Regions from separate parts of the Homo sapiens genome. Here region 2 is linked to region 1. Evidence: fine-mapped expression QTL. A gene starts in region 1. The other region holds a variant in brackets. All regions are shown on one strand. Distances are from middle to middle.

Region 1 (4,376 bases):
CATTGCACTCCAGCCCAGGCAACAGTGTGAGACTGTGTCTCAAAAAACAAAAACAAACAAACAAACAAAAATTAGCTGGGCGTGGTGGCATGCGCCTGTAATCACAGCTACTTGGGAGGCTGAAGCAGGAGAATTGCTTGAACCCAGGAGGTTGCAGTGAGCTGAGATGGCACCACTGCACTCCAGCCTGGGCGACAGAGTGAGCCTCCAGCTAAAAAACAAAAAGTTTTCCAAGCTCAACACTCATGAGCTGGGCTCCCAGAGTCCCCATCAGGGATGACATCCCCTAAATCCCAACCCCTGCCTCACTCCTAGCAGTCAAGGGCTCAGGGCTGCACTTCTGGCTACTACCCTATATCTGAATTTGCCCACCAAGCAGACAGGTTTTAAGTCTGGACTGTTTCCTTCTCAGTGTTGTTATGAAGGCTTAAGCTCTGCATTAAGTTTCTACAAGTTCCACAGCATCAGGTCATATGGTTTTCCTCAGGGTCAATGTTAATGTGTGCTGAACTGGCTGGAGGACTGCCAGGCCCTGTGAGAAGCCTACGTTCATTCATCCATGTCCTTGGAGTCCTAACATCAGCCTTAGCAAGTAGGTCCTGTTTTTGTCTCCACTTTTCAGATAAGGAAAGTGATGCCTAAAGAGACAAAATTCTCTGTCCATGGTCATAGCCTGGATTTGAACCAGGGTCTTGGGACTCTTGGAGTTTGTAGGCTTACCCCAATATATGCCTGCCTCTAAAGTCATGGCCACTAATTTCCTGTGGGCTGAGTTGTGTGTTTCAGAGGAGGGTCTAAGAAACACTGACTTCTTTCAGTGTGCTGTGGGGTCTGTGTGTAACTGGGACCCTAGATTTACCCCTGAGGCTGGCATACAGCCCTGCCCTGTCCCCGCTAACAAAAGTGGACTTGCTGGGGCAGACCAAAGGCCTGGGTCAGACCAGGAGGCCACCTTACAAACCCCAAGGCTGGCAAAAATGGGCGGCCTGTGCCTCTGGCCTGGTGTACCTAAAATGGAGAGAGATGAGGGTTCCAGGAGAACCAGAGAGGGAGGAATGAAATTCCTCCAAGGAGCCCAGGGTGGCATGTCCGACTGTGTGACACGTAGACAGGGCCTCCGCAGGGAGCCACGCGCTACCCCCAGGTCCAGCCGGCTGTCTTCTTATAATACCCACCAGCCTTTTTCCCTGCCCACCAGCCGCTGAAAACTCCCACCCCCTCCAAAAAAAAGTTCTATTCCCTCTTCTCTGACCACAAAGGCACTGAAAACAGTGGAACCAGAAGGGGAGTCAGGGTGGGTGGAAAGGTACGGGGTCCAGGCTGATAGACCATCCCAGGGTTCTTAAGCAGCAGGGACCACCCCCTTCCCCCCAACACTGTAGATCAGAACACCCCTCTCCATCAGGTCATTACATACAGCCCTGGTAACTACACAAGGCAGTTCACCTTGATTATCGAGTCCTTTCCGGGATGTGGAGAGCTTGTGAGAAAGAAATGGGATCCTTTGAGAAGTGAGGGTTTGGAAGTGGGGGCAGGAGGGTATCTTTGGGGAGATGGGTGTCTGGGAGGCCCCAGGGGTGCTGTCTAGGGTTAGAGTATTGGGATGCAGAGCTTAAAAGAGGCAACAAGGAAACAGGACCCCGGGTTCAGGGGACGGAGTGGTGAATCCGGGGGCGCCCAACCGGGGTTACCTTGAATCAAACTTCTTGCCATCTTCAAAAGTGCCGTTGTAGTGGTAGCGCACAAAATCCCCCATCTGCACTTCCCGGGGACAGGCCCTGGGGATGTGGTACCTCTCGATGACCACATCTTCCAGGGGGCCCCCGGCCGGGCTGGCGCGGCCCAGCCCCCTCCCCACGGCCTGCACCACCAGTAGCAGCAACTGCAGCAGGGGGAGCCGGAGGAGGCTGTGGCTGGGGGGGCCCGCGGGGAACATGGTGCCTGGAGTTGGGACCGCCGGCAGTGAGGGCGAGCGAGGGAGTCGCCACCAACCTCCTTCCCCCCGCCTCCCAGAACTGGCTCCCCCTCTTCCTGTCCTCTTTCCCTACCCCCGCCCTGGCTGGTCCACGTGGAATGGGGGCTGGGAAGACTGAGCTGGCCTGGCCGGGAGGAGCGGGGGAGGGGGTTGCAATAGGAGGAGGGGGCCAGGCTGAGTGTGTTAGAGTCTGAGGGAGGCACTACAAAGAACTCTAGGTTCCCCCTCCCCCCATCTCCATCCCTGGCTGCGAGACCTGGGGCCTGGCCAGGGAGAGAGGCTCGGGAAAGATGAGAACTCTGAGTGGACACCAAAGGAAAAAAAAAAAAAAAAGTTCAATGACTTTTTCCGGAGCCCCCGGGTCCTAAAGCCGGGCGGAGATGAACCTTGCTTCTTTCGCGGGCACTTCGAATTCTAGTCCCCTCCAGGTGGGTGGTGAAGCCGCGGAGTGTGAGAGGCATCTCCGTGCTCATCCGTGACCCCAGCTGTACTCCAAGGGAAGGCATCTCCAGGGAAGAGCAGCTTGGTCCCGCAAAAGCTGGACTGAAAGAAGGACTTTGTGACTTGGGATGTGACGGGCACGGAGATGGAGTGGGGGGTGGTGGCAGCGCAAGGTGTGCAGGTGACAGCAGGTGTGTGCCTCCGACGTGGGCGGGGGAGACACTCGGAGGGTGCAGGAGGGCGCAGCGACGGAAGGCCCGGCTCCAGGGCTTCCTTCTCGTATGGGCAGCGCAGAGGAGGCGGCCCTCACTCAGTGTCCTGATCTCAGGCGGGGGCACTGTTTGCATGGGGAGGGGCTTCCTGGGCTTCCCATCTCTGGCGGGAAGCGCTCCCCGACGCATTCTCTACCTAGGGGACACCCCCAAGGCAGGAGCCCGGGCCGACGGAGAGGACTTAACGACACTATCGGACCCTCTGGGAAAAGAGGGGAGACGTCGTGACCCAGGCCCCGCCCCACCTTGCCGCCTCGTGCCCGGCGCTAAGACCCAGCGGGCGCGCCGCCCGCCCGGGGCCCGGCCCTGTCCCCTTCCGTCCGCGGGGCAGCCAGCTCAGCTCCGGAGAGCCGGCGGCGCGGCGGGCATGGCTCGGGTGGCGTGGGGGCTGCTGTGGTTGCTGCTGGGCAGCGCCGGGGCGCAGTACGAGAAGTACAGCTTCCGGGGCTTCCCGCCCGAGGACCTGATGCCGCTGGCCGCGGCGTACGGGCACGCTCTGGAGCAGTACGAGGGAGAGAGCTGGCGCGAGAGCGCGCGCTACCTGGAGGCGGCGCTGCGGCTGCACCGGCTCCTGCGCGACAGCGAGGCCTTCTGCCACGCCAACTGCAGCGGCCCCGCGCCCGCGGCCAAGCCCGATCCCGACGGCGGCCGCGCAGACGAGTGGGCCTGCGAGCTGCGGCTCTTCGGCCGCGTCCTGGAGCGAGCCGCCTGCCTGCGGCGCTGCAAGCGGACGCTGCCCGCCTTCCAGGTGCCCTACCCGCCGCGGCAGCTGCTGCGTGACTTCCAGAGCCGCCTGCCCTACCAGTACCTGCACTACGCGCTGTTCAAGGTGGGAGCCCGCCCCCACCCGGGGACCTGTCTCGGGCTGGGCGTCGTGGCTCCCCACAGATCGGTCGAAGGAGCGTTATCTTCACCCAAGGCACGAAGCCCGCCGTGCGCTCGGGGCCGCGAGCTCCGGTCTTGCTGACCCGCTCCCCCACCCCCTACCCCCCGACCAGGCTAACCGGCTGGAGAAGGCGGTGGCGGCGGCCTACACCTTCCTCCAGAGGAACCCGAAGCACGAGCTGACCGCCAAGTATCTCAACTACTATCAGGGGATGCTGGACGTCGCCGACGAGTCCCTCACGGACCTAGAGGCCCAGCCCTACGAGGTGGGGTGGAGGGTCAGGAGGAGGCTTGTAGAGGAGGGCTAGTAGAGGAGGGGAGATGTTGGGGGCGCCCTGACTCCCCCTGCCACGCCCCTTCCAGGCCGTGTTCCTCCGGGCTGTGAAGCTCTACAACAGCGGGGATTTCCGCAGCAGCACGGAGGACATGGAGCGGGCCTTGTCAGAGTACCTGGCAGTCTTTGCCCGGTGCCTGGCCGGCTGTGAAGGGGCCCATGAGCAGGTGGACTTCAAGGACTTCTACCCGGCCATAGCAGGTATCTGCCACCCAGACCACGGTGGGCGGTCCTCTCACCCACAGGGCCCGGTAAGGCAGATGTCCCCTTCATGCACGTGGAGCACTGCGAATGCGGAGGAGCCAGCCGGGAGGAAGGCCTTGTCTGTTGAGAAAGACGCTGGGTGCAGGGGCCCCAGCTGGGAGTGTCCAAGGGGCTGGATCAGTGAGTAGAGGCAGTGACATCCCTAAAGGGTTTGGGAAGCTTGGGTTCATAGGCCTTCCAGGCAGAGGGCAGTGCAGATGCAAAG
Region 2 (4,376 bases), 24 kb before region 1:
CCAGCCTGGGTAACAGAATGAGACTCATCTCAAAAAAAAAAGACAAAAATCAGATCTCTCAAGAGCAAAAGGAAAAAAAAAAACAAAACAAACAAAAAAAAAAAAGAGAGAAAAAAGGCCCTGACCCTAGTCATGCCTCTTCAGAAGGCAAAGGAGCCAGGCAGGAGCTCCTGCCTGGACCAGAGTTGGCCAGGCACAGTGGTAATCCCAGCACTTTGGGAGACTGAGGCAGGAGGATCGCTTTGGGCCAGGAGTTCAAGACCAGCCTGGGCAACATAGCGAGACTCCCTCTCTACAGAACATTTCAAAAGTAGCCGGACGTAGCAGCATGTGCCTGTAGACCTAGCTACTTGGGAGGCTGGAGTAGGTGGATTGTTTGAGCCCAGCAGTTGAAGGCTGCAGTGAGCTATGATTGCATCACTACACTCCAGCCTGGGTGAAAGAATGAGAGCTTATCTCTAAAAAAAAAATTTTTTTTTAATTTTTAAGGAGCCCAGAGCTTTGACAGTGTCCCTAAAGTTAAGGTGATGGGGTGGGAAACAGAAAATGGATCAAAGTGTCTCAAAATGAGCCCAATTACCCCTTTGGCTGAATTTGGCAACCCTGTTATACCTAAAGTAGGAACTGCAGCTACAGAGGATGTTCTTATGGGCACTGAACTCAAAGCCATTGACCTTGATGACCACGTCGCAGAGCTTGCCCTCTAGTCTAAGCTCGTTGAAGATCTCACAGGCCATCGCACTCATCTTCCTCTCCATGTGAGGCTGGTGGAAACGTGTGGAGGCCGCCGCGCTCTCCATCTCCATGGCACCCTGGGACAGCGGAGAGAGGCTGCTTTCCTAGGGTGTCGGGGAGGGTTGTGGGGGGCCCCTTTAGCCAGCTGTCGCTCCTTTTCCCTACTACATCTTTTGTATAGGGTCTATCAGGCAACCCAAGTTCCAGAATCCTGGCCCTGCAGTGAGATCACACAGGATTGTGCTCTCAGGTTCTGGAACTGCCTCCTGGACTTGTCCTCTTCCTTCTCCCCTCCTTACCACCCCACTTAGGCTGAAAACCACCTCACACCTCCTTCTGTGTCCTTGAACCCAAAACAGAACCATGACCACTAGCACCATCTGAGTGTTTATTGATTCCAGCTCCTGTTACTCACCTGATACAGGTCTCTATCCCTGGAGCATTCATCTACCTTCCACAGCCCAACACTTGGCTCCCTAGACACCGAACTCAAGGAAATCCAAGTCAATTGAGGCTGAAGGGAGAAGTAAAACTGATTAAATTTCTTTCTTAGGCCGGGCGCAGTGGCTCACACCTGTAATCCCAGCACGAGGTGGATGGATCACAAGGTCAAGAGATCAAGGCCATCCTGGCCAACATGGTGAAACCTCGTCTCTACTAAAAATACAAAAATTAGCTGGGCGTGGTGGCACATGCCTGTAGTCCCAGCTACTTGGGAGGCTGAGGCAGGAGAATCGCTTCAACCCAGGAGATGGAGGTTGTAGTGAGCCGAGATCGCTCCACTGCACTCCAGCCTGGCGACAGAGTGAGACTCCATCTCAAAAAAAAAATCTTTCTTTTTCTAGGGACGGGTCTCGCTCTCTCACCCAGGCTGGAGTGCAGTGGTGTGATCATAACTCACTACAGCCTCGACCTCCTGGGCTTAAGTGATCCTCCCACCTCAGCCTCCTGAATAGCTGGGATTACAAGTGCTCCGCACCGTGCCCAGCCAACGCTGATTACATTTCAGAAAGCTGTCCCGGGTCTCCCAGCCCGCTGGATGGGTTAGTCACTCAGTTTCTTCTGGAATGAGGAATGGCCTAGTTAACAGAGCCCTTTCTGGGTGATTAACAGAATTCAGTTTATGGCTCCTTCATCTCTCCTCCCATCCAGCCGTGTGGTTTTTCTGTTTTTGTTTCTGAGACAGGGTGTCATCTGTCACCCAGGGTGGAGTGCAGTGGTATGATCTCGGCCTACTGGAGCCTGGATCTCCCGGGCTCAAGTGATCCTCGTGCCTCAGCCTCCCGAGTAGCTGGGACTACAACAGGTGCGTGTCACCATGCCCGGCTAATTTTTGTATTTTTTGTAGAGACAGGGTTTCGTCATATTGC[C/T]CAGGCTGGTCTCGAACTCTTCGGCTCAAGCGATCATCCTGCCTCGGCCTCCCAAAGTCCTGGGATTACAGGTATGGGCCACCGCGCCCAGCCCCAGTCATGTTTTTGTCACAAACTTTCAGCCTGGAAATGACCACGTTTGGCAAGGCTTTTCCTCCACAAAGAGTGGCAGAACCCTACCTACCCACGTAACCCCAACACCTTGGGACCTTCACCCTGCTCTTCATAATAAATAGAACCCTCCTCCAGTTTGCCTAGCGCAACCGGCAAGCCCACCCGGATCGCGGCCATCTCCGGGACCGCTCGATTCTCGGCCCCACCCCCGCCCCGCCCCCGGCCCCACCAACCCCCGCCCGGGCTCCAGGCGGGAGGCGACGCCTGCGCAGTGCGGTCGCGGGGCTGTCGTTGTCCCGCGAGCCGCCGACCAGGCCTCGAACGGGATGGCAGAGGAGGTGAGGAGGGAGGAAGCGTCCGGAGTGGGGCGGGCCCGGACTCCGACCCCCGGGGCGCTTCGAGCCCCCCAGCTGGTCACCGAGGCACCGCCGCTTCACCCAGGCCAGTAGCCGCCCCCTCGCGCACCCCGGCCCCGCCTCACACGCGCGCCCGAGCGAGCCCCGGGCTCCCCTCGGGCCCAGCGTGGCGCAGGGGTCAGTGGTTCTCTCGGGTCTCGGGACAGGTGAGCACCCTGATGAAGGCCACGGTCCTGATGCGGCAGCCTGGGCGGGTGCAGGAGATCGTGGGCGCCCTCCGCAAGGGCGGCGGAGACCGGTTACAGGTACCTCTGGGGCGTGCGGGGGCCGGCCGGGCTGGGGGCGGCTGGAGAGGCTTCCTGCCCATTGGGCCTTCCCGCTTTGCTCTGCCGCGGACCCCTCCTAGCTCTCTGCCCCAAGAAATGGCCGGGAGCTTGAAGGAGAGCGGGTTGGTTCGCCTGTCCTAAAACCCAAATTTCAGATTTCTCAATATGGTCATGCTGCTTCCTCTAATTGGACAGAAGGCGCCCACACCAGTACCTAGGGCCTTATCCTCCCCAAGCCAGCGGCTCCCCAGTAAGTTGAAGATGTCCAGATGGGCCGTAATGGTAGAGATCTCTTAGGAGGGACCTGATATTGAAGGAGTCAGAGGGGTCCTGAGTATTCACCCTTGCCCCCACACTAGGAGACTGCGTTTTCCTCAGGGTTAACGGGTACTAATTAGGATCACTTCCCCTCTATCCCTCTGTGTCACTCGGTAACTCCCCTAGGGCTTTGCCTACATCCTGGCCACTGAGCTGTATTGATTTCCATAATCATCCCCCAGGCTGAGGCAGGGCCACACTAGAATTCTGGTGCCTATTTAGGCATCATCTCTCTTTTGCCTTATAGGTGATTTCTGATTTTGACATGACCTTGAGCAGGTTTGCATATAATGGAAAGCGATGCCCTTCTTCTTACAGTAAGTCACATTCTAGCTTCCCTTGTTGAGCTTGACAAGACGATGGGTTCTAAGGGACAAGTAAAAGGAGTTTTCTCTTTTTCCAGATATTCTGGATAATAGCAAGATCATCAGTGAGGAGTGTCGGAAAGAGGTGGGTTGCTCCCGTCCTTTGCTCAGAAATGGTTGTCATTTGCTACTTCAAATGGTTCCTGATTGGAACCAAAGATTCCAGTATAGAGACCTTAGAAAATTAATTTTTAAAAACTTGTTGTTTTGCTAAGGAGGGTCTAGTTTTAATACATTAAGACAGCTTTTCCTTACTGGCCAGGACATATGATGATTAATGGTTGGAACTGGACATTATATTTACTGTTGGCTATAGAGTTTACAAGAGATTTGAACATTCTGGAGGTTCAGCAACTTACCCAGGGTCATACAGCCAAATGGCAGAGCTTGTTTGTTTGTTTGTTTTGAGACAGGGTCTCACTCTATCACCCAGGCTGGAGTGCAATGGCTTGATCTTTGTTCACTGCAGCCTTGACCTCCTAGGCTCAAGTGATCCTCCTGCCTCAGCCCTACTGAGTAGCTGGAACTACAAGCATGTAACATTACACCTAGCTAATTTTAAAAATTTTTTGTAGAGATGGGGTCTCACTATGTTGCCTAGGTTGGTCTTGAACTCCTGAGCTCAAGCAATCCTCCTTCCTCAGCCTCCCCAAAGTGCTGGGCTTATAGGCATGAGCTACCACACCTGGCCTTTTTAAAAGAAAATTTATATTCTTCTGTTGGGTTCTAGTGTGTGTGTGTGTGTGTGTGTGTGTGTGTGTATTTTTTTTTTTGAGACAGAGTCTTGCTCTA

Direction of the effects. Alleles are on the strand shown, and positions count from the first base shown. SD is a standard deviation of normalised expression in the study named.
For the expression in sun-exposed skin of the gene that starts at base 1,967 in region 1, allele T in region 2 goes with a lower level than allele C (small effect, 0.27 SD a copy in GTEx).

Evidence for each region. PIP is the estimated chance that this variant, and not a neighbour inherited with it, causes the effect.
Region 2: its variant is the best candidate, but not a certain one, in a credible set for the expression of FKBP10 in sun-exposed skin (GTEx, PIP 0.56).

Annotation. Positions count from the first base shown.
Region 1 is chr17:41,810,595-41,814,970 of GRCh38, reverse strand. It overlaps FKBP10 (FKBP prolyl isomerase 10), which reads right to left and starts at 1,967. Exons shown (of 10, transcript NM_021939.4): 1 at 1,692-1,967. The coding sequence starts at 1,936. P3H4 (prolyl 3-hydroxylase family member 4 (inactive)) reads left to right here and starts at 3,022. Exons shown (of 8, transcript NM_006455.3): 1 at 3,022-3,517; 2 at 3,687-3,839; 3 at 3,937-4,108. The coding sequence starts at 3,056. RefSeq lists enhancers at 1-166, 2,653-2,762 and a silencer at 2,903-3,392.
Region 2 is chr17:41,834,363-41,838,738 of GRCh38, reverse strand. NT5C3B (5'-nucleotidase, cytosolic IIIB) reads left to right here and starts at 2,507. Exons shown (of 9, transcript NM_052935.5): 1 at 2,507-2,557; 2 at 2,782-2,880; 3 at 3,467-3,536; 4 at 3,623-3,669. The coding sequence starts at 2,546. It overlaps KLHL10 (kelch like family member 10), which reads right to left and starts at 914. Exons shown (of 5, transcript NM_152467.5): 1 at 613-914. The coding sequence starts at 806. RefSeq lists an enhancer at 1,904-1,983 and silencers at 2,404-2,783, 2,914-3,023. The variant C/T (reference allele first, on the strand shown) is at 2,106.